6 linked regions of the Homo sapiens genome follow. The protein of the gene in region 1 purifies or fractionates together with the protein of each later gene. This does not show direct contact. Each region holds a gene or a part of one and is shown on either strand. Other genes may lie near its edges. The genes, in order: DNAJB14, UQCRC2, TTC1, GRPEL1, DNMT1 and DNAJC7.

The links.
Region 2: the proteins of DNAJB14 (region 1) and UQCRC2 purify together in Homo sapiens (affinity purification with mass spectrometry, with the first as the bait; one large-scale study listed by BioGRID). This does not show direct contact.
Region 3: the proteins of DNAJB14 (region 1) and TTC1 purify together in Homo sapiens (affinity purification with mass spectrometry, with the first as the bait; one large-scale study listed by BioGRID). This does not show direct contact.
Region 4: the proteins of DNAJB14 (region 1) and GRPEL1 purify together in Homo sapiens (affinity purification with mass spectrometry, with the first as the bait; one large-scale study listed by BioGRID). This does not show direct contact.
Region 5: the proteins of DNAJB14 (region 1) and DNMT1 purify together in Homo sapiens (affinity purification with mass spectrometry, with the first as the bait; one large-scale study listed by BioGRID). This does not show direct contact.
Region 6: the proteins of DNAJB14 (region 1) and DNAJC7 purify together in Homo sapiens (affinity purification with mass spectrometry, with the first as the bait; one large-scale study listed by BioGRID). This does not show direct contact.

The regions. Positions count from the first base shown.
Region 1 is NC_000004.12:99,912,119-99,915,618, reverse strand, and holds part of DNAJB14 (dnaJ homolog subfamily B member 14), read left to right. Parts: intron 1-3,500. UniProt on the Homo sapiens protein: Acts as a co-chaperone with HSPA8/Hsc70; required to promote protein folding and trafficking, prevent aggregation of client proteins, and promote unfolded proteins to endoplasmic reticulum-associated degradation (ERAD) pathway.
Region 2 is NC_000016.10:21,970,361-21,973,860, forward strand, and holds part of UQCRC2 (cytochrome b-c1 complex subunit 2, mitochondrial precursor), read left to right. Parts: intron 1-1,164; coding exon 1,165-1,260; intron 1,261-1,562; coding exon 1,563-1,762; intron 1,763-3,500. UniProt on the Homo sapiens protein: Component of the ubiquinol-cytochrome c oxidoreductase, a multisubunit transmembrane complex that is part of the mitochondrial electron transport chain which drives oxidative phosphorylation.
Region 3 is NC_000005.10:160,036,639-160,040,138, forward strand, and holds part of TTC1 (tetratricopeptide repeat protein 1), read left to right. Parts: intron 1-52; coding exon 53-165; intron 166-3,500.
Region 4 is NC_000004.12:7,058,395-7,061,729, reverse strand, and holds the end of GRPEL1 (grpE protein homolog 1, mitochondrial precursor), read left to right. Parts: intron 1-521; coding exon 522-868; 3' UTR 869-2,835; downstream 2,836-3,335. UniProt on the Homo sapiens protein: Essential component of the PAM complex, a complex required for the translocation of transit peptide-containing proteins from the inner membrane into the mitochondrial matrix in an ATP-dependent manner.
Region 5 is NC_000019.10:10,188,454-10,191,953, reverse strand, and holds part of DNMT1 (DNA (cytosine-5)-methyltransferase 1), read left to right. Parts: intron 1-3,500. UniProt on the Homo sapiens protein: Methylates CpG residues. Preferentially methylates hemimethylated DNA. Associates with DNA replication sites in S phase maintaining the methylation pattern in the newly synthesized strand, that is essential for epigenetic inheritance.
Region 6 is NC_000017.11:41,989,940-41,993,439, reverse strand, and holds part of DNAJC7 (dnaJ homolog subfamily C member 7), read left to right. Parts: intron 1-3,057; coding exon 3,058-3,176; intron 3,177-3,500. UniProt on the Homo sapiens protein: Acts as a co-chaperone regulating the molecular chaperones HSP70 and HSP90 in folding of steroid receptors, such as the glucocorticoid receptor and the progesterone receptor.

The sequences.
Region 1 (3,500 bases):
TTTAAAATATTGAAATCATACAAGTATGTTCACTAACCACAGTGGAATCAAAGTGGAAATCAGTTACACAAAGGTAATAGGAAAACGTCCAGTCCTTGGAAACTGAACAACAAATTTCTAAGTATCCATGGGTCAAACAGGAAATATCAAAACAAATTTGAAAAAACATATTGATCTAACTTGGCCAGGCACAGTGGCTCACGCCTGTGATCCCAGCACTTTGGGAGGCCGAGGTGGGTGGATCGCAAGGTCAGGAATTTGAGACCATCTTGGCTAACACGATGAAACCCCATCTCTACTAAAAATACAAAAAAGTAGCCGGGCGTGGTGGCGGGCGCCTGTGGTCCCAGCTACTCGGGAGGCTGAGGCAGGAGAATGGCATGAACCTGGGAGGCGGAGCTCGCAGTGAACTAACTAAAAATGAAAATACAACAATTAAAATTTGAGAAGACCAGCTAAAGGAATGCTGAGAGGAAACTTGTAACATGAAATGCATATGTTAGAAAAGAAGAACAGCCTCAAATCAGTTATCTATGCTTCTACCTTACAAATCTAGAAAAAGAATAGCAAAATAAACTCAAAGCAAGCAAAAGAAATTATAAGAGTAGAAATCAGTACAATTGAAAAGAGTAACAATAGTGAATATCAATGAAACAGAGCTGGTTCTCTGAAAAAAATCAATAAAATTGAAAGACTGACCAAAAAAAGAAGACAGAAATGACCATTGTCAGAAATGGTGTCAGAGACAAGGATATCACTGCAGACATCAAACGGATAATAAGAGAATACTATGAACAATTCCATATACATAAGTTTACAAGTTAGATGAGATGGGCCAGTTAGTTGAAAAATACAAATCATCACAACTCAGTCTGACATAGATAACGTGAATAGCCCTGTAGAAATTGCTGTGGTTTGGGTATATTGAAATTTTTTAATTTTTATTTTTATTTTTTATTTTATATATATATTTTTATTATCCTTTAAGTTCTAGGGTACATGTGCACAACGTGCAGGTTTGTTACATATGTATACATGTGCCATGTTGGTGTGCTGCATCCGTTAACTCGTCATTTACATAAGGTATTTCTCCTAATGCTATCCCTCGCCACTCCCCCCACCCCACAACAGGCCCCAGTGTGTGATGTTCCCCTTCCTGCGTCCAAGGGTTCTCATTGTTCAATTCCCACCTATGAGTAAGAACATGCGGTGTTTGGTTTTTTGTCCTTGCGATAGTTTGCTGAGAATGATGGTTTCCAGCCTCATCCATGTCCCTAGAAAGGACATGAACTCATCATTTTTATGGCTGCATAGTATTCCATGGTGTATATGTGCCACATTTTCTTAATGCAGTCTATCATTGTTGGACATTTGGGTTGGTTCAGTATATTGAAATTTGATCCTCAATGTGGCAGTGTTGGGAGGTGTAGCCTAGTGGGAAGTGTTTGTGTTATGGGGGCAGATCCCTCATGAATGTCTTGCTGCTGTTCTCACAGTAGTAAGTTCTTGCTCTCTTGAGGCTAGATTAGTTCTTGAAGGAATTGATTATTTCCCGAATGAGTGGGTTGTTATAAAGCCAGGACACCCCTCAGGTTTTCCCCTCTTTGCACCTGTCTGCTTCCCCTTTGATTTTCTCCACCATGTTATGCAGCACAAAAGCCCTCACCAGAAGCCAAGGCTATGCCCACAAACTTTTCAGCCTATAGAACCATAAGCTAGTCTCAGGTATTTTTCTATAGCAACACAAAATGGACTAAGACAGAACTGTTCAGTGAATTAAAGTTGTAATTATGAAATTCCCAAAAAAGAAATATCCAGGCTCAGATGCTCTTATTGAAGAAGTCTACCAAACTTTTTAAGGAAGAATTAAAACTAATTCTACATAATCTCTTCCAGAAAATAGAAGAGGAAGAGACATTTTCCAGTTAATGTTAAGAAATGTTTTACCTTGCTTATATCAAAACCAAAGACATTACAGAAAAAAAAAAAAAAAAAAACTACAGACCAGTATACTTTGTGGGATAAACCCAAATGTCCTTAACAAAATATCAGAATTTTGCAGTATATAAAAAGAATTATATACCCCAAACAATAGAAGTTTATTTCAAGGTAGCAAAGTCAATTCACTATTTGAAGATCAATAAGTGTAATCCACCACATTAATTAAAGAAAAAAAATCCCACGATTATATTAATCAGTGGAATAAAAGCATTTGATACATTTCACCACCCATTCATGATAAAAACTGTCAGAAAAATAGCAATAGAAGGGACCTGCCTCAACTTGATAAAGAGCAACTACAGAACTCCTGTAAGCTAACATTAAATGGTGAAAGACTGAATGCTTTTCCCCTATGATCAAGAATAAAGCAAGAATATCTCTTTACCACTCATATTCAACAAAGTGCAGGAAGTAGTAATCACTGCGTTAAAGAGAGAAAAAGGAAATAAAAGGCATACAGACTGGAAAAGAAGAGCTAAAACTGTTGTTATGTGCAAATGACATGATTATCTATGTAGAAATCCAAGGAATCTACAGAAAAAACTGTGACTACAAAGCAAATCCCGTAAGATTGCAGGACACAATATAAATCTACAAAAAATTAATTGCATTTCTATTTACTAGCAATGAATATTTAGACACTAAAATTAATAATACATTAGCATTTACAATCATACATACAAAAAAATACTTAGGTGTAAGTTTAATAAAACTTTTATCACATTTATATACTGAAAGCTATACAATATTGATTAAAGAAATCAGAAAATAGCTAAATAAATGGACTGAAATATCATGTTCATGGATGGGAAGATTCAACATAGTAAAGATGTCAAGTCGGCTGGGCACGGTGACTCACACCTGTAATCCCAGCACTTTGGGAGGCCGAGGTGGGCAGATCACCTGAGATCGGGAGCTTTAGACCAGCCTGACCAACATGGAGAAACCCCATCTCTACTAAAAGTACAACATTAGCGAGGCGTGGTGGCGCATGCCTGTAATCCCAGCTACTCAGGAGGCTGAGGTAGGAGAATCACTTGAACCTGGGAGGTGGAGGTTGCAATGAGCCGAGATCGCGCCGTTGCGCTCCAGCCAGGACAACAAGAGCAAAACTCTGTCTTAAAAAAAAAAAAAAGTCAAGTCATCACAGATTGATATACAGATTTAACACAATTCCTGTCAAAATCCTAGCAGGATTTGTTTTGTAGATAGAAACAAGTTTTATTCTAAAATTCATATGAGGGGAAGAAAGAACCTGAATATTTAAAAACATTTATTTCTGTTAAAAGAATGTAGTTGGAGTAATCAGTGTTCCTGATTTCAGGATTTACTGTATAGATAAACAGTAAACAAAACTGCGTGGTAATGGCAGAGAGATACACACATAGATCAATAGAACGAGATAGGAAACCCAGAAATAGACTGATACCAATATAGCCAACTGTTTTTTGACAAAGATGCAAAAGCAGTTCGATGGAGGAAAGATAGCCTTTTCAACA
Region 2 (3,500 bases), on another chromosome or scaffold:
TGCCAGACTGTTTTCCAAAGTAGCTGCACCATTTTACATTCCCACCAGCAATGCACAAAGGTTTTGATTTCTCCACATCCTCACCAACACTTATCGTCTGTCTTTCTGATTATGAACAACCTACTGGGTGGGAAGTGGTCATTGTAGTTTTGATTTGTATTTCCCTAATGACAAATGACATTGAACATATTTTCATGTGCTTTTTGTCCATTTGTATAACTTTTTTTGTTTGTTTGTTTTTTTGAGACAGAGGCTTGCTCTGTTGCCCAGGCTGGAGTGCAGTGGCGCAATCTCAGCTCACTGCAACCTCCACTTCCCAGGTTCAAGCAATTCTCCGGCCTCAGCCTCCCGAGTAGCTGGGATTACAGGTGCATGCCACCATTCCTGGCTAATTTTTGTAATTTTAATAGAGATGGGGTTTCACCATGTTGGCTGGACTGGTCTCGAACTCCTGAGCTCAGGTGATCCACTTGCCTCGGCCTCCCAAACTGTTGGGATTACAGATGTGAGCCACCGTGCCCAGTCAACTTTGGAGAAATGTCTATTCAAGTCTTTGCCCATTTTTAAGTTTTTTTTTTTAATTGTTGAGTTGTAAAGGTTCTTTATATATTTTGGTTACTCAAGCTGTTAGCAGATATATTATCTGCAAATATTTTCCTGCATTTCATGGGTCCTCTTTTTACTTTCTTGATACAGTGTTCTTTGATGGACAATGCAATGTTGTTTTAAGAGCTAACTATTAGAAACATGCTAGCGTCCATTAGGAGGGGATTGATCAAATAAATGGTGGTAGAGCCATAGAAAGGGATTCTTTATAACCATTAAATATTTGATGTAGACTACTCACTTAGAAATTTGTAAATTATGAAAGATAAGTTAGAAACAATATCAATAGAATGATACCATTTTAGAAATAAATTGAAGATAATATTAACTACACAGAAAATTCTAGATGAATAGTAATACTAAGTATATAGTAAATAGTTTAGTAATAGTAAACTGTAATTGGGTATCTCTGGGAGAGTGGCATTATGGCAGGAAGACTCTTATTTATTTTGTAGTGTTAGGATTTTACAATCGTATTTTTAAAACAAGGAAAAAATATTTTACGATTGTGTTTTAGTAATTGTGGTTCTAGCTTTGTTTTTGCTTCTGTTGAAACAGGTGTGAGTCATCCTGTTCTAAAGCAAGTTGCTGAACAGTTTCTCAACATGAGGGGTGGGCTTGGTTTATCTGGTGCAAAGGCCAACTACCGTGGAGGTAAGCATTTCATTCTATTAGGGTTAATTTATCAGAAGGGCGTTTCCCCACTAGAATAGCATATTGAGGTGGAATAGGCCTGAATATTTACTACTGAACAGTCTCGGCATAGAATTGGATGGCTTGGGTGTTGTATTTTGAGCATATGTTTTGTGTGTGTTTGGGGACAGGATGGCATGGGGAAAGCACCGAGCTGCAGAAAAGACTCGTGGGTTAATACTGTGTTGTAGGAAATACTGGAGAATGAAACCAATGGTGAACAAGCCATTTTCTTCTTCCCTCTATCCTTAATCTGGCCCCAGGTGAAATCCGAGAACAGAATGGAGACAGTCTTGTCCATGCTGCTTTTGTAGCAGAAAGTGCTGTCGCGGGAAGTGCAGAGGCAAATGCATTTAGTGTTCTTCAGCATGTCCTCGGTGCTGGGCCACATGTCAAGAGGGGCAGCAACACCACCAGCCATCTGCACCAGGCTGTTGCCAAGGCAACTCAGCAGCCATTTGATGTGAGTCTGAACAGTTGGTATCTCTCTTTTTGCTTTCAAAGGCTCAGTATTTAAGATATAATTCTGATAATCTACTCTTAAAATGTAAGACAAACACACAGAAAATCTTTGTACAATTGAAGAGATAGCCAGGCTTGATTTTAGTATCTTTGAAGGCCTATCAAAAACTCACTGGCTTTTCCACTTTGTCTATTACTTGTCATTAGTAATATAAAAAGAGGAATTGAATGCTTAGAAATAAAGGGAATCCACACATCCGTTCCCTTTAGAATAAAGTTGTAGATATTAAACTTTCCCCTAGATTCTAACTAGTCTTTTTTTCTAGATTTTCTTCTGTCCGCTTCTGTTCTTTTGGTTACTTCCTGAATCTCACTATTTGTTTTCCAACCAAGTGGACAAGATGAACACCAAGAAATTGTTTACAGACTCACTCATTCAGCTTGAGATTAAATTTGAAAAGAAAAATGAGAGGCTGGGCACAGTGGCTCACAACTAAAATCCCAGCACTCTGAGAGGCCGAGGTGGGCGGATCACTGGAGGTCAGGAGTTCGAGACCAGCCTGGCCAACGTGGTGAAACCCCCATCTCTCCTAATCCAATGAAGTAATTTAATAGAAATTCCTAGTTCAGAACTCAGCCAGAAATTTAGAGTATAAATAGGATGGCCTCAGAATTATAATTAAAGAAATTGAAGTCCAGGCCAGGCACAGTGGCTCACGCCTGTAATCCCAGCACTTTGGGAGGCCAAGTTGGGCGGATCACAAGGTCAGGAGATCAAGACCATCCTGGCTAACACAGTGAAACCCTGTCTCTACTAAAAATACAAAAATTGTCTGGGCGTGGTGGCGCACGCCTGTAGTCCCAGCTACTTGGGAGGCTGAGGCAGAAGAATCACTTGAACCCAGGAGGCGGAGGATTCAGTAAGCTGAGATCGTGCCACTGCACTCCAGCCTGGGTGACAGAGCAAGACTCTGTCTCAAAAATATATATAAATAAATAAATAAAAGAAATTGAAGTGCCTTCTTATGCTTTACGTGGACTGAGCCAATGGTTCTCCAAGTTTATTGTACATAAGAATTACCTGGAACACTTGTTAAAAATCTGGGCTTCCAGGCTGCATCCACAGGGACCTGAGTCAGTAGGTCCATTTTGGGAATCTGAAAGTTTGTATTTTTAATAAGAACTTAGATAATTTTTATGTAAATGGTCCACATAAACACTGCAAATCGGGTTCACCCTAGAGAGCTAAAAGCTCTGCTCAAACTAGATAACAATATCCCTGTTATTCAGAGGTTAAACTCTTGATAGCTTGGACATCTGGATAATGACCACTAAGCAGAAATTTTTCTCTAACTTTCTGACATGAGTGTATAAGAGAAATGAAAGTAAATTGGTGAAAAAGTCCCTACCAACAGCAGAGAGAAGAAACCTGGTCTGCCTAATGCCAAAGCCTATCTATATTATAATAATAATGTTTGCAGATTAGTGTTTGCATAAACCTTTAATCATCTAAAGCAGGTTAGAAAATACCCAGCATAAAGGAAAGGGAGCAGTCATTTTAGAAATATTTAAATGAAAAAACAAAGCCGTGATAGTTCTGAAAGAGGTAACCTATTTACAGAATACTTCAGTTCGTGACAGAACTGGCTAAGTAAAATATTAATCTATTTTGTTTATACCGTGAAGGTCCAAGTTTTTTCTAGGCAAACTTAAAGAAATCGTGCCCTGTTTTACTTGGT
Region 3 (3,500 bases), on another chromosome or scaffold:
TAGTATCAGGAATAAAATCAAAATGACCATTCATCCTTTCTCTTATCCTCAGATTATATAGAAGCTGAAAGTTCTTATAGTCGAGCCCTCGAAATGTGCCCATCCTGCTTCCAAAAGGAGAGGTCGATTCTATTTTCAAATAGAGCTGCAGCAAGGATGAAACAGGTATGTATCTGTGACCTTTTCTTTTTAAAAAGCACATGGACTTGCAGTCTTTTCATACCATAGTTTCTCTCCAGAAACTAGCATAGAGGTTGCTGCCTCCCTTTTCCTGCCCATATATTTCCCTGATGTAAAGGCCACAGGGAGAATAGAAAATCTTTTGAAAAACTTGAGTCAGATTACTGTTAACATTCCCCATTAAAGTAGCTGAGTGAATACTTTCATGGAAGGAGGGCTGGCAAATTTTTTGCTAAACTAGGTCAGGTTAATGAAGCAATGAGCCAAGCAGTGCATGTCCTAGAATAGCTCTAGATCCTTATTTTAGGCCTCTGGAATTCTAGATAAACATGCAAAGGCACAGGGAAACACTGGTAAAAACTCTGGGCTTTAAAGCATCTTTAAAGATGGTTATTCCCAGGATTCTGACTTTTCTGTTCAAAGTATGGACACTTGGAGAAATCTCCAACAGCTGGGATAAAAGGTACCCTTAAATGCAAAATAGGTGTCAAGGAACTTTGAAAACATTTTGTATTTCCAAAGGACTGAGAACCTAGTATAACAAGGTGAGTATGGAATAGGTGAGAGTACAAATATATTTGTTTTATACCATGACCTTATTAAAAGTTAGATTTGGGCCAGATGCAGTGGCTCACACCCGTAAACCCAGCACTATGGGTGGCCGAGGCGGGCACATCACCTGAGATCAGGAGTTCGAGACCAGCCTGGCCAACATGGTCAAACCCCATCTCTACTAAAAATACAAAAATTAGCCAGGCATGGTGGTGGGCACCTGTAATCCCATCTACTCAAGAAGCTGAGGCAGGAGAGTCGCTGAAGCCTGGAGGCAGAGGTTGCAGTGCACTGCACTCTGGCCTGGGCGACAAGAGCAAAACTCTGTCTCAAAAAAAAAGTTAGATTTGTTTCTGATTTGTCTGATTTTCCGATTTAGTCTTCATAATCCTTGGATTGAAATGAGAGTGGTTTTTTTTTTTTTTAAACCATACCACTTTTTAAACTATGGCTACTTACATCCAAAGTACAAAGGATAGGTTATTTAACATACCTTTAAGCAACCATGATGCTGGCTCAAGATTGGAAGTGGCAGTGTTTTCATTTGTTTGTTTAGATCAGATATCTCTTTGATACTGTCTGAAATTCTCAAATGCCTCTACCACAGTCACTTTAGGTGACAAGGTTTTTTTTGTTGTTGTTGTTTTTTTTAAAGGCCCCAGGGCAGGGTTGCGGGGGTGGGTGCTTGAATGCTTGGACATGCAGAAAGGTTACGGTTTTTTTTTTTTACCAGAACTTGTGTAAGATTCAATCTTCAAAGCAGAGTATTTTTGGAGTATTTCATGTGGCATGAGAGAAGAAATAATTTTATAGTATACAAACCAACATTTTGTATTAGAGAAAACAAAACAATTGGTTTAACTTTATTTAAAACAATATTCATTAATGTGTCCCACCAGCAATCAGAATTAACATCTAACAGTTTTTACACTTACCTGGAAAATTCTGATCTTTTAGATTTGCTTCTCCCTTTTGCCACATTTTTAGACTGGACATTGTCATTGTGAAATAGGATCAAGGATGTGCCTTCAGTATCAGAGGAAATGCACCATACCCAGTTGGCTCCTGGGATTTGGGATTCTTTGTTTCTACAGTTGCCCAAGTTATTGATATTTCTAGGTTTGGGCTCACATAAATAGTCTGGTTCTTGAGTTAGGAAAATGTATGGTCTTGTTAGTATTTTGTCTGTCACATCTGAGGAGAACTCAAAAGAGCGTTGCTCTATGATTGTTGCCTGTTCAAAGAATAGTTTTGTTGGTGAAGTTTTCTGTTCTTTTAAGTTGCGTTTCTTTTTTTTTTTTTTTTTTTTTGAGACGGAGTCTCACTCTGTCACCTAGGCTGGAGTGCAGTGGTGTGATCTCGGCTCACTGCAACCTCCGCCTCCCGTGTTCAAGCGATTCTCCTGCCTCAGCCTCCTGAGTAGCTGGGATTACAAGTGCGCGCCACCACGCCAGGCTAATTTTTGTATTTTTAGTAGAGACAGAGTTTCACCATGTTGGTCAAGCTGGTCTCAAACTCCTGACCTCGTGATCCGCCCACCTCAGCTTCCCAAAGTGCTGGGATTACAGGCGTGAGCCGCCGTCCCCGGCCTTAAGTTGCATTTTTAATACTTTATGAAGACTCTAAAATGAGAGACTTGATAACTTCTAGGATTAGTACCCTGACACAATTTAAGGAGCATATTATATTCTAAGTTTTTCAAGGAAATGATGGTTTAACTGCTTTAAGAGGTAAAGATGAAGAATTTCTGAAAGGCAGGTTTGCAAGCTCAGCATCCCTGACTCAGTGCCCCTGGCCACGCTTCACATTTCATATCTGGAGAGAGAAAAGGTAACCTGGAGCTAGGGCAGAGTTTCAGCTCTAGGTCTCGCTAGCTATACAAGAGCAGAGCCCTAAAAGAGTAGGTTCTCTTTTTTTTTTTTTTTTTAACTACTGTCCTTATATATTATATACATTGTTTTATATGTATAGTTAGATTTGTTTGTCCTTATATGCTGTGTACATTTGTTTTGTCACTATATATTATGTATACTGTTTTATATAGATAGATAGCTACCTATATATAAAAATTATGAAAGAATGGTAAAGTTGTGATTTTTTTTTTTTTCCCACACACTCCACTTTGGGGACTACCATTGTAAGCAGCAGACAACACCTGGGTCCTCTGAGGTATTAGTAGACTATGAGCCTCAAACAAAAGTTTCTGCAATAAAATTCCATAATTCCTTGATTTGAGGAGACAGTGGATAAGATGCACTACAGCTTAATAATCACTTCTAGGCACACAAAGAATACCATCACAACAGTTGTACACATAAATTGTAAAGATTTATTTCTATTTCAGAAACTGTGAAATTGTGTGTCTTTGACTTATAGAAATGTGATAAGTTGAAAAAATATTGACTTATATAAAGTTATACAGATTACTTACAGGACTTCTTAGAGTTTTTGATATTTGAATTGGTATGCTGAACATTGAAAGAGAAATAAAAAAAGGTCCCAGATGACCCTGAAACCTTTTTTGTTTTGTTTATTGTGGTAAAATACAGATAACATAAAGTTGGCCATTTTAAAGTACAGTCATGAGTCACTTAACAACGGGTATACATTCTGAGAAATGTGTTATTAGGTGATTTCATCATTGTGCAAACATCATAGAGTATACTTACACAAATCTGGATGGTATGGCCTACTACACACCTAAGCTATATGGTATAACCTATTGCTCCTGGGCTACAAACCTGTACAGCATGTTTCTGCACTGAATT
Region 4 (3,335 bases), about 93 Mb from region 1:
ATACTGTGGCCTGTTTCTTGGTATTCCGCCTCTCTTTGTGGTAATGTGCTTTGTTGGTTCTTACCCTTTCCGACCTGTAAATGCCTGGGCTCTTGGGACTCAGTACCAGACCTCTTCTCTCCCCTTGCTGTGCTCCCTGGGTGACTTACATACTCTTACGGGCTTAGTGGCATCCACACACAAGTCTCAGCTTCAAACTCGGATCTTCCGAGTTCCAGTCCCCTAAATCTTACTGCTTGCTTGACATCTGGGCTTGGATGTCTCAAGGGTATTTTCCCCTCTACTGCACTCCTTTCTTCACATTTTAGTGAATTCTAAATTTAGTAAATTCTGGGTCTCATCCCACAAGTAGCTTTTGAGAGTTTTGTGTTGTTTTTTAAAGTTATTGAGCCATTGGAATTCTGAGGCGATTGATTTGACAAGTTACTAAATAGCCTCCACATCAGGTCAGCAGTGCTCAGTTTGGAATTGCCCTGTGCGGTTGGTATGGAGTGCAAATGATCTTCTTTAACTTCATCCAGGCATTCAAGCCTTCTGCAAGGACTTGTTGGAGGTGGCAGACGTTCTGGAGAAGGCAACACAGTGTGTTCCAAAAGAAGAAATTAAAGACGATAACCCTCACCTGAAGAACCTCTATGAGGGGCTGGTCATGACTGAAGTCCAGATCCAGAAGGTGTTCACAAAGCATGGCTTGCTCAAGTTGAACCCTGTCGGAGCCAAGTTCGACCCTTATGAACATGAGGCCTTGTTCCACACACCGGTTGAGGGGAAGGAGCCAGGCACAGTGGCCCTAGTTAGCAAAGTGGGGTACAAGCTGCATGGGCGCACTCTGAGACCCGCCCTGGTGGGGGTGGTGAAGGAAGCTTAGCTGCTGTTGATGGGGTGGGTGTTTTTAAACTCACTTGATGTAACTCTCAAGGCTGGTTCATTGTTTCTCATCTATGAGTACGTGTGACCTTTTCCCAAACCTTATTGGAAACCTTAAGTAACCAGTGGCTAAACAGAAAAGCCGGTTGCCCAACTGCATTAATGAACTCTAATTCGGGAGTCTGTTCCCTTTTAGTGCCACGCGTTGAATAGTTCCACATACTTTCAGAAGAGCTCAGCAGGGCCCTGCCTGGTCTCCCGAGCATCATGAGTAACGTGTCTGCTCAGACTCTGCTGACACCAAAGTATTTTAAACAAATAAAAGGTCTTGGGGAATTCTGTTTGGCTACCTGGGCACGCCAGTCTGCACCATGTGTCCCTGCGGCGCATGAGTGACTGGCGTATTTAGCCCGTCACATTTCATTCGCTGAAGGAAAGGCAAGAGAGTTGAAACATTTTTCTTACTTAAAAAAAATGATCTTTGTGAAGAACATAGTGAGTTCGTTTGTCTTCAGTCAACAGCGGCTGAAACTGACCACTGAGAAATGGGTGTGGGCACTGACAGTTCTCCCCCATTATTTGGCCAGGAATTGAGCTTGGCTTGGCAAAGTTCCTTTTACCCTGTTCTGTTCATCTAAATGCAGACATATTTAAATCATATTCAACTAGTTACTAATGACCTCAAGTTGTATTCCCTGGCAAAATGGACTTTCTCAAAATAGGACTGCACGCTTGGTGTACTTTAAATGTTAATGTTTAATTTAAAATTTTTATTTAAGAGGATTAAAGCCCTAATGTTTATTTTCCTACTTTCTGAAAACAATTTTGTGTCCTCTCATGGAGATCCTTGCCGCTGAGGCAAGCATGGCTTAGCCTTCCCATTCTCTACTCCAGCCCAGAAGCTGTCAGCTTGACACGTGCGTGCGTGCACATTCACGTACACACATATACAGGCTTCTACACAGAAAGGGAGAGCCACACTCCCCCAGTGCAGCTGCAGCCCGTCCGGTAAGAATACGAAACACCCAGGAGCCACAGCAAGGGCACAGGATTTGCAAAATCATCTTGCCAAAGGGCTGTTCCTCATTTACACGGTCATCCAGGGCTTAGAAAAAGGCTGAATGATTGGCGTCTGTTACAAAAAAGAGAAAAGAACCTTTCGCTGCCTTTGCTTCTAGAATGGAAGATACTTGTGAAAGCCATTTGCTGCACAGGAAAGATGGGGCAGTTTATTTCACTTCTAATTTTAAAAGACGCAAGTAATGGTCCCATAATACTTCATCTTGGGATACCATTCCCAAACATGTTCCACCTTTAAGATGCCTTAAGTTAATTTGGTCAGAAACAACTAAAGGCAGCATCGTGTATTGAAGAAAACATGACTGGGAGCTCCAGCGCTGCCTGTTTTCACGCTGTGGGGTTGTGAGTGCATCATCACCCCTGGAGCTCCCGAGTTAAATGGAGGCTAAGAAAAGTAATTTATCAACTCATTTCTGTGAATGTTTGCAGTCTCCTACCGTCTCAACTACAGCTGCAGTTGCTAAAAAGCACTTAACTCGTAACCTAGAGGCAATATAGCTTAAGTAGCAAAATATTTTTTTACAGTAAGCTTCAGTCATCCATAGTCACTATAAGTTGGTTATCATCTGAAATGCTTAGAACCAGAATTGTTTCAAACTTGGGGGGTTTTCGGATTTTGGAATATAGTCAAGCATGGCTTAACCACAGGGATGTGTTCTGAGAAATGCGCTGTCAGGCAGTTTTTCCTGTGAACACCATGTGTACCTACATGGACCTAAAAAACAGGTGGTGGAGCCTCCTCCACACCTAGGCTATATGGTGTATGTAGCCTGTTGCTCTAGACTGGAGGGCACGTTACTGTACTGATACTGTAGGCAACTGTTAACACAATGGTATCTGTGTATCTGAACATAACATAGTAAAGGTACAGTGCAAACTGTGTTCTAATATGTGGCCCCTCATTGACTGAAAAGAGATTCTCTGCTTGACTATTTGCATTGTATTTGCTGGTTAAGTATCCCCAATCCCAAAATCCAAAATGCTCTAAATGAGCATCTCCTTTGAGCACCATGTAGGCACTCAGAAAGTTTCAGATTTTGCAGCCTTTCAGATTTGGGGATACTCAACCTGTAATAGGAAAATGTCTTTTAATTATGTGCATATTTACAGTAGGAATTAAAGATTTGTTTAGCTACCTTCTAGTAGTTACTGGATTTAGCATAACTGCAGCATGAGTGAAGTGTCACGTGTGAACAGTGAAAACCAGAACTGGAAGTCTCAGAGGCATCTGAAAAGTCGGCCTGGCTTCCTGAAAGACTCAGACCCATTTGGCTTTCTCTGGCTGTACTGCTGCTTTGAGGGAGGAGAGCACCTGGCACGAAAGGGTCTCTGCTTAAGAGAAAGCAACTTTAGGTCGGGTGCAGTGGCTCACGCCTGTAATCCCAGCA
Region 5 (3,500 bases), on another chromosome or scaffold:
GCTACTCGGGAGGCTGAGGCAGGATAATCGCTTGAACCCAGGAGCCGAGATTGCACCGTTGCACTCCAGCCTGGGCAACAGGAGCGAAACTCTGTCTCAGAAAAAAAAAAAATTTTTTTTTTTAGAGATGAGGGTCTTGCTTTGTTGCCCAGGCTGGTCTTGAACTCCTGGACTGAAGCAATCCTCTGCGTTGGCCTCCCAAAGGGCTGAGATTACAGGCGTGAGCCACAGGGCCCGGCCATTATTCCTCAAGAGTTCTTAAAAGTGGATGCTGCAGGAGTTAACTGCCAGGAAGCAGGAATTCCTGCTAAGGTCTGCTGCTTGCCAAAGCCTTTCCCTTCAACAGGGGTTGCCAGTAGGCCACTGGCTCAGGGGCTCTGTTGGCCCTGTGCAAATATTTTGTTTGGCTGAATTGGAATACCATTAGGTGAGCCTTACAATCCACCACTGACCCTGGGTTCCACATTTCTTTACACTCAGATTGCTTCACTGTAGGCATTGGAGTTTTGGAGGACTGCTTTTGACCATGTGGTAGACATTGAAATTGTAGTTTATATGACTCACTCCACAGACTTTTTTTTTTTTTTTTACATTTTGAAAATATTTCATTAAATGAAAAATAAACATGGTATCCAACAGTACTTGAAACTTAGATTTTTTTTTTTTTTTAATTGAGGCAGGGTCTTGCTCTGTGGCCCAGGCTAGAGTGCAATGGTGTGATCTCAGCTCACTGCAGCCTCCGCTTCCCGGGTTTAAGCAATTCTCCTGTCTCAGCTTCCCAAGTAGCTGGGATTACAGGTGTGCACCACCACGCCCAGCTAATTTTTCTTTTTCCCCCTCGAGGCTGAGCCTTGCTCTGTCGCCCAGGCTGGAGTGCAGTGGCCGTGATCTCGGCTCACTGCAACCTCCACCTCCCGAGTTCAAGCAATTCTCCTACTTCAGTGTCCCAAGTAGCTGGGATTACAGGCGCCCGCCACCAAGCCCAGGTAATTTTTGTATTTTTATTAGAGACTGGGTTTTGCCATGTTGACCAGGCTGGTTTCAAACTCTTGATCTCAAGTGATCCACTTATCTTAGCCTCCCAAAATGCTGGGATTACAGGTATGATGGTGTCCAGCCGGTTCATTGTTTTTATTTTATTTTATTTTATTTTATTTTATTTTATTTTATTTTATTTTATTTTATTTTTGAGACAGAGTCTTGTGCTGTCGCCCAGGCTGGAGTGCAGTGGTGCGAACTTGGCTCACTGCAACCTCCCCCTCCCGGGTTCAAGTGATTCTCCTGCCTTAGCCTCCTGAGTAGCTGGGATTACAGGCATGTGCCACCACGCCCGGCTAACTTTTTCTTATTTTTAGTAGAAACCGGGGTTTACCGTGTTGGCCAGGCTGGTGTTGAACTCCTGGACTCAAGTGATTCGCCTGCCTCAGCCCCGCAAAGTGTTGGGATTACAGGCATGAGCCACCGTGCCTGGCCTTTTAATTCATTCTTAAGCCTGCTCTCAGACAGCTAGGCTTGCTTCTCCACAATAAAGAGTGTTGAATTTTGTCGGTGTATCCCGCATGGTGCCATTATAACACTGAAATTAGTGATTATTTCAGGGTCTGTTACCAGAGCGTGTCTGCCGTATTCACTGTATCTGCAGCTTGGAGCACAGTAGACTCAAATGCTTGCATGCCAGCTCTTCCCCTGTACAGCCTGGATTAACACTGATGCTAGCAGACTCCTTTGCACAACTGATTAGCTTTCGTAACTACCACAGCTTTCTTACTGCTAGTCATTCTGTGATGGGATTAAGCTAGGTCTTGAACTCCTTAACTCCAGTTCCTTGGCTACTACTGAGTACATACTGAATAAGGCAAAATTGACTTACCTCTTTTGTTTTGCTCCCCTGTGGTAGAATTCTAGGGGTACAGACTGCTGGGTTTCAAATGCCGCCCTACTTGCCAGCCGTATGGCTAAGTTATTGAACTTCTTGGTGCCTTGGTGTTTCATCTATAAAAAGGGGGTGGGGCTGCCTGCTCGACAGGGGTGTTAGGAAGACTGAGCTTATCAGTACAGATATGTTGAGAGCAGCACCTGTCCAAAGCCCTTCATCACTGGTTATTACGTGGTACTGTGTGTACAGTGGGGATGCTGTGGGTTTGGTTCCAGACCACTGCAGTAAAGTGAATCTAGCAAGAAAGTGAGTCACACACACATTTTGGTTTCCTAGTATGTGTAAAAGTTATTAGACTAGGCCGTGTGCAGTGGCTCATGCCTGTAATCCCAGCAGTTTGGGAGGCCAAGGCAGGAGGATCGCTTGAGCCAAGGAGTTCAAGACTAGTCTGGGCAACATAGGAAGACCCCCCCCATCTCAAAAAAAAAAATAAAGCCAAAAGTGGTGGCATGCACCTGGGGTCCCAGCTACTCGGGAGGCAGAGGTGGGAGGATCACTTGAACCCATGAGGTCGAGGCTGCAGTTTGCCATGATTGTGCCACTGCACTCCAGCCTGGGTGAAGGAGTGAGACTCTGTCTCAAAAAAAAAAAAAAATCAGCTGGGCGTGGTGGCTCACGCCTGTAATCCCAGCACTTTGGGAGGCCAAGGTGGGCAGATCACGAGGTCAGGAGATCGAGACCATCCTGGCTAACACGGTGAAACCCCGTCTCTACTAAAAATACAAAAAAAATTAGCCAGGCATGGTGGCACACGCCTATAGTCCCAGCTCCATGGGAGGCTGAGGCAGGAAAATTGCTTGAACTTGGGAGGCGGAGGTTGCAGTGAGCCGAGATCATGCCACTGAACTCCAGCCTGGGCAACAGAGCGAGACTCCGTCTCAAAAAAAAAAAAAAAATCATCTGAGTCTTCAGCGATTCATAATCTTTTTGCAGGTGGAGGGTCTTGCCTCAAACTTGCCGGCTTAAAGGACATACATTTATTACCTTATGCAGGTCAGAAATCTGATGTGGGTTTCACCGGATGAAAATCAAGGTGTAAGCAGGCTGCATTCCTTTCTGGGGGCTCCAGGGGAGAATCTGTTTCCTATTTTGGGGTGTTGGCAGAAGGTGGTAGTTGTAAGACTCAGGTCCCATTTTCTTCACTGGTTCTAAACTGAGGGTCGTTGCCCGCTTCTGGAGGCGGTCTCATCCCTCGGCTCATGCCCCCTTCCTCTACCTTTAAAGTCAGCATTTGCGGGTTGCATCTCTCTCTGACCCGTCCTCCAACGTTGCCCGCTCTCTGCAGCTAGAAAGGTTCTGTGTTCTTAAGGGCTGAAGTGATTAGATTGGGCCCACCCCAGATAATCCAGGATAATCTCCCCATCTCAAGGTCTGTATTCTTAGTTACATCTGCAAAATCGCTTTGGCCACGTAAAGTAATATATTCACAGGTTCCAGGGATTAGGGCATGAACATTTTTCGGTGGGTCCACTCTTTTTGAGATGGAGTCTCGCTCTGTCACCCAGGCTGGAGTGCAGTGGCATGATCTCGGCTCACTGCAACTTCTGCTTCCTGGGTTCAAATG
Region 6 (3,500 bases), on another chromosome or scaffold:
TTGCCCAGGCTGGAGTGCAGTGGCGGGATCTCGGCTCACTGCAAGCTCCGCCTCCTGGGTTCATGCCATTCTCCTGCCTCAGCCTCCTGAGTAGCTGGGACTACAGGCGGCCACCACCACGCCCAGCTAATTTTTTGTGTTTTTAGTAGAGACAGGGTTTCACCGTGTTAGCCAGGATGGTCTTGATCTCCTGACCTTGTGATCCTCCCGCCTTGGCCTCCCAAAGTGCTGGGATTACAGGCGTGAGCCACCACGCCTGGCCTCAGTAAATGTTTTGATAAGAGGATACATTAAGAATCATTCACATTGACTGATGGTCTTTTATTTGGTAATGTATATATCTGATTAGCTTATGCAGAGTCCCGGCAGTAACTTATTAGCATCCCTCTTCTGTCCATTGGTTTTAATAACCACAGTTGTCTTTGTAATGTAATTCATAAGTTTGTTTTGTTTGGCATGTGTGTGTTTGGAAAGCAATTCTGCCTACTGTCAGTTTTCTGAGGTTTACATAGGCAAAAGCTTTGTCTTGAGAGGTGGTCTTTTGGGTTTCTTTTCTCTCTTGCCTACTCCAGAGCCAGAATCCTGAGTTTGTGACAGAATCCTCTGTTTGTGACATCCCAGCCCCCCCACTGTAGCTCACGGTGATGTCACAAATGAAGAATTATGATCCTGGCAGGGGAAACAGATGAACTTGGAAGAAACAAAAGATCTTCTTTGCCTGCAGCTGTCCCTAGTCATGGGGAGGTTGGGGGGTGGGAAGTGAAGCACTGACGATCCCCATGATTAGCAGAACCAGCTCTGCATAAAACGGGGTCCTTGTGAAGGCAACAGGGTGTGGCTGCTGACATTTTGACTGACTTTTTCCTGCCCCCTCATTCCTTTTCCATCTGGGGGGGCAGGACAGTTAGCACAACTCTACCTACATAATGCTTAAGTTTTCATATTGTCCTTAGAACTTTCAGGACATGCCGAGTGCGGTGGCTCATGGCTGTAATCCCAGCACTTTGGGAGGCCGAGGTGGGCGGATCACCTGAGGTCGGGAGTTAGAGACCAGCCTGACCAACATGGAGAAACCCTGTCTTTACTAAAAATACAAAAAATTAGCCAGGCCTGGTGGCGCATGTCTGTAATCCCAGCTACTCAGAGGGCAAAGGCAGGAGAATTGCTTGAACCCGGGAGGCAGAGGTTGCAGTGAGCCAAGATCATGCCATTGCACTGCAGCCTGGGCAACAAGAACGAAACTCCATCTCAAAAAAAACAAAAAACAAAAAAACAGAAAACTTTCAGGACAGTAAACCTGTGCCACTGAAGGAGAGGCATTCCTGTCACTGCTGTGTGACACTGCAGAAAGTCTTCTCAGTGAAACAGCTGGTAATGTGGTAGTGTTTACTGACTTGCTCATATTTTAAATTTCAGTTTTGGAATAGGTGCTATTCATGGTTCAAAAACTAGAAAGTGTTGCCAGATGCAGTGGCTTATGCTTGTAATCCCAGCACTTTGGGAGGCCAAGGCAGGAGGATCACTTGAGGCGAGGAGTTCGAGACCAACCTGGGCAACTTATTGAGACCCTGTCTCTACAGATAATTTAAAATTTTAGCTGAGTGTGGTGACGTGTGCCTGCAGTCCCAACTACTCATGAGGCTGAGGCAGGAGAATCACTGGAGTCTGGGAAGTCGAGGCTGCAGTGAGCCATGATTGTGCCACTGATACTCCAGCCTGAACAGCAGAGCAAGACCCCATCTCAAAAACAAAACAAACAAAAGTTAGAAAGTATGAAAAATATTCAGTGATGAGTGTCCCCTCAAACTTGTCCTCTCTCCGCCCAGTTCTCACTCCCCTAAGCTAACCACTGTTCTTATGTCTTCTATTTTCTTCCTTAGTTTTGTTGTACTTATATAAAATAAAGATCCTTGATTTTCTCCCTTTATTTAGCGTGAAAGGTAGTATGCTTTATGGCAGGTCTGCACCTTTAAAAAAAAATCACTGAGTAGCTCTTGGAAGTCTTTCCATATTAGTACATGAAGAGCTTCTTCATTCTATTTTAGAACTATATAGTATTCCATTATATGAATGTCCATGTTAACTAACCAGTCTCCTGTGGATGGAATTTGAATTTTTCTGCTTGTAAGTTTTCAGAGTTTATCTCTTCCTGACCCCCATGGCCAAATTCTTAGAGGGAATAGGTGTCCCTTAACTCCAGATTTGTCCTTCGGTTCATTTATTCTCGGCGTGAATGTGATTCAGCAAGGCTCTCCCAGGAATAAATAGCAGCTAAACCAAAACTGAAAGCTCAGAGGACAAACTAGTAAAAAGAGAAAAACAGAATATATGGAGATGCTTTATGAGGCTGAAAGAGTAAATTAATCCCCACCTTTTTGTGTGTGTGATTGCTCCTTGGCTTGTGGTTTGTATAGTGGCATGTTGGGAATAGTAATCTGATGTAGCCTATTTAGAGCCATTTAAAATAACTATTTTAAGGCTGGGTGTGGTGGCTCACGCCTGTAATCCTAGCACTTCGGGAGGCTGAGGAGGACGGATCACGAGGATCAAGACCATCATGGCTAACATGGTGAAACCCTGTGTTTACTAAAAATACAAAAAAAAATTAGCTTGGGCGTGGTGGCGGGCGCCTGTAGTCCCAGCTACTCGGGAGGCTGAGGCAGGAGAATGGCGTGAACCCAGGAGGCAGAGGTGGCAGTGAGCCAAGATCCTGCCACTGCACTCCAGCCTGGGTGACAGAGTGAGACTCCATCTCAAAAAAAAAAAAAAAAGTGATAATATTGCCTATTTCATAAAATTCTTGTGAGGATTAAATGGGTTCATATATGAAAGTACCCAGTAAATGTTTACTGTCCTCATTATCATCTGGAGCCTTTGCTGTCCTCATTTCAGTGCTTTTATTTAATGAATTAGGTATGTTTTTAAACTTTGATATTACTTAGAAGTGGACCCAAAGACCTCATTGAGTTTTGAGTCTGTTACCTGTGACTAAACTAAAGTGAAGATGTTTCTGGAGTCCCTGATGAAGAGCCTTATTTGTTTTCTTCTTCCCTACAGGTTGTTTTCTGCATGGACCGTGCCCTAGAATTTGCCCCTGCCTGCCATCGCTTCAAAATCCTCAAGGCAGAATGTTTAGCAATGCTGGGTCGTTATCCAGAAGCACAGTCTGTGGCTAGGTATGCAGTCAGGCTAGCTGGACATTAAAATGCCAGATACCATTGGACTGATGGTGTCCGGCAGCTTCACCACAGGATATGGTCCCCAGAGTAGGCCAGCTAGGGCTGATCAGACCCTCTTGGGACTTAAAGTCAAAGATTAGACCAGCTTTGAAAACCCGTAGGGTATACAGGAGTATAGTAGTATAGCAGGTACTTGAGCTATATATGAAAGAACAGATTGTGTTTTTGTGGTTTTGTTTGTTTGTTTAAGGTAGTCCTTTTCCTTCTACTCCACTGGTTGGCACACTTTCTGCAAAGGGCCAGATTTTAGCCTTTGCAGGC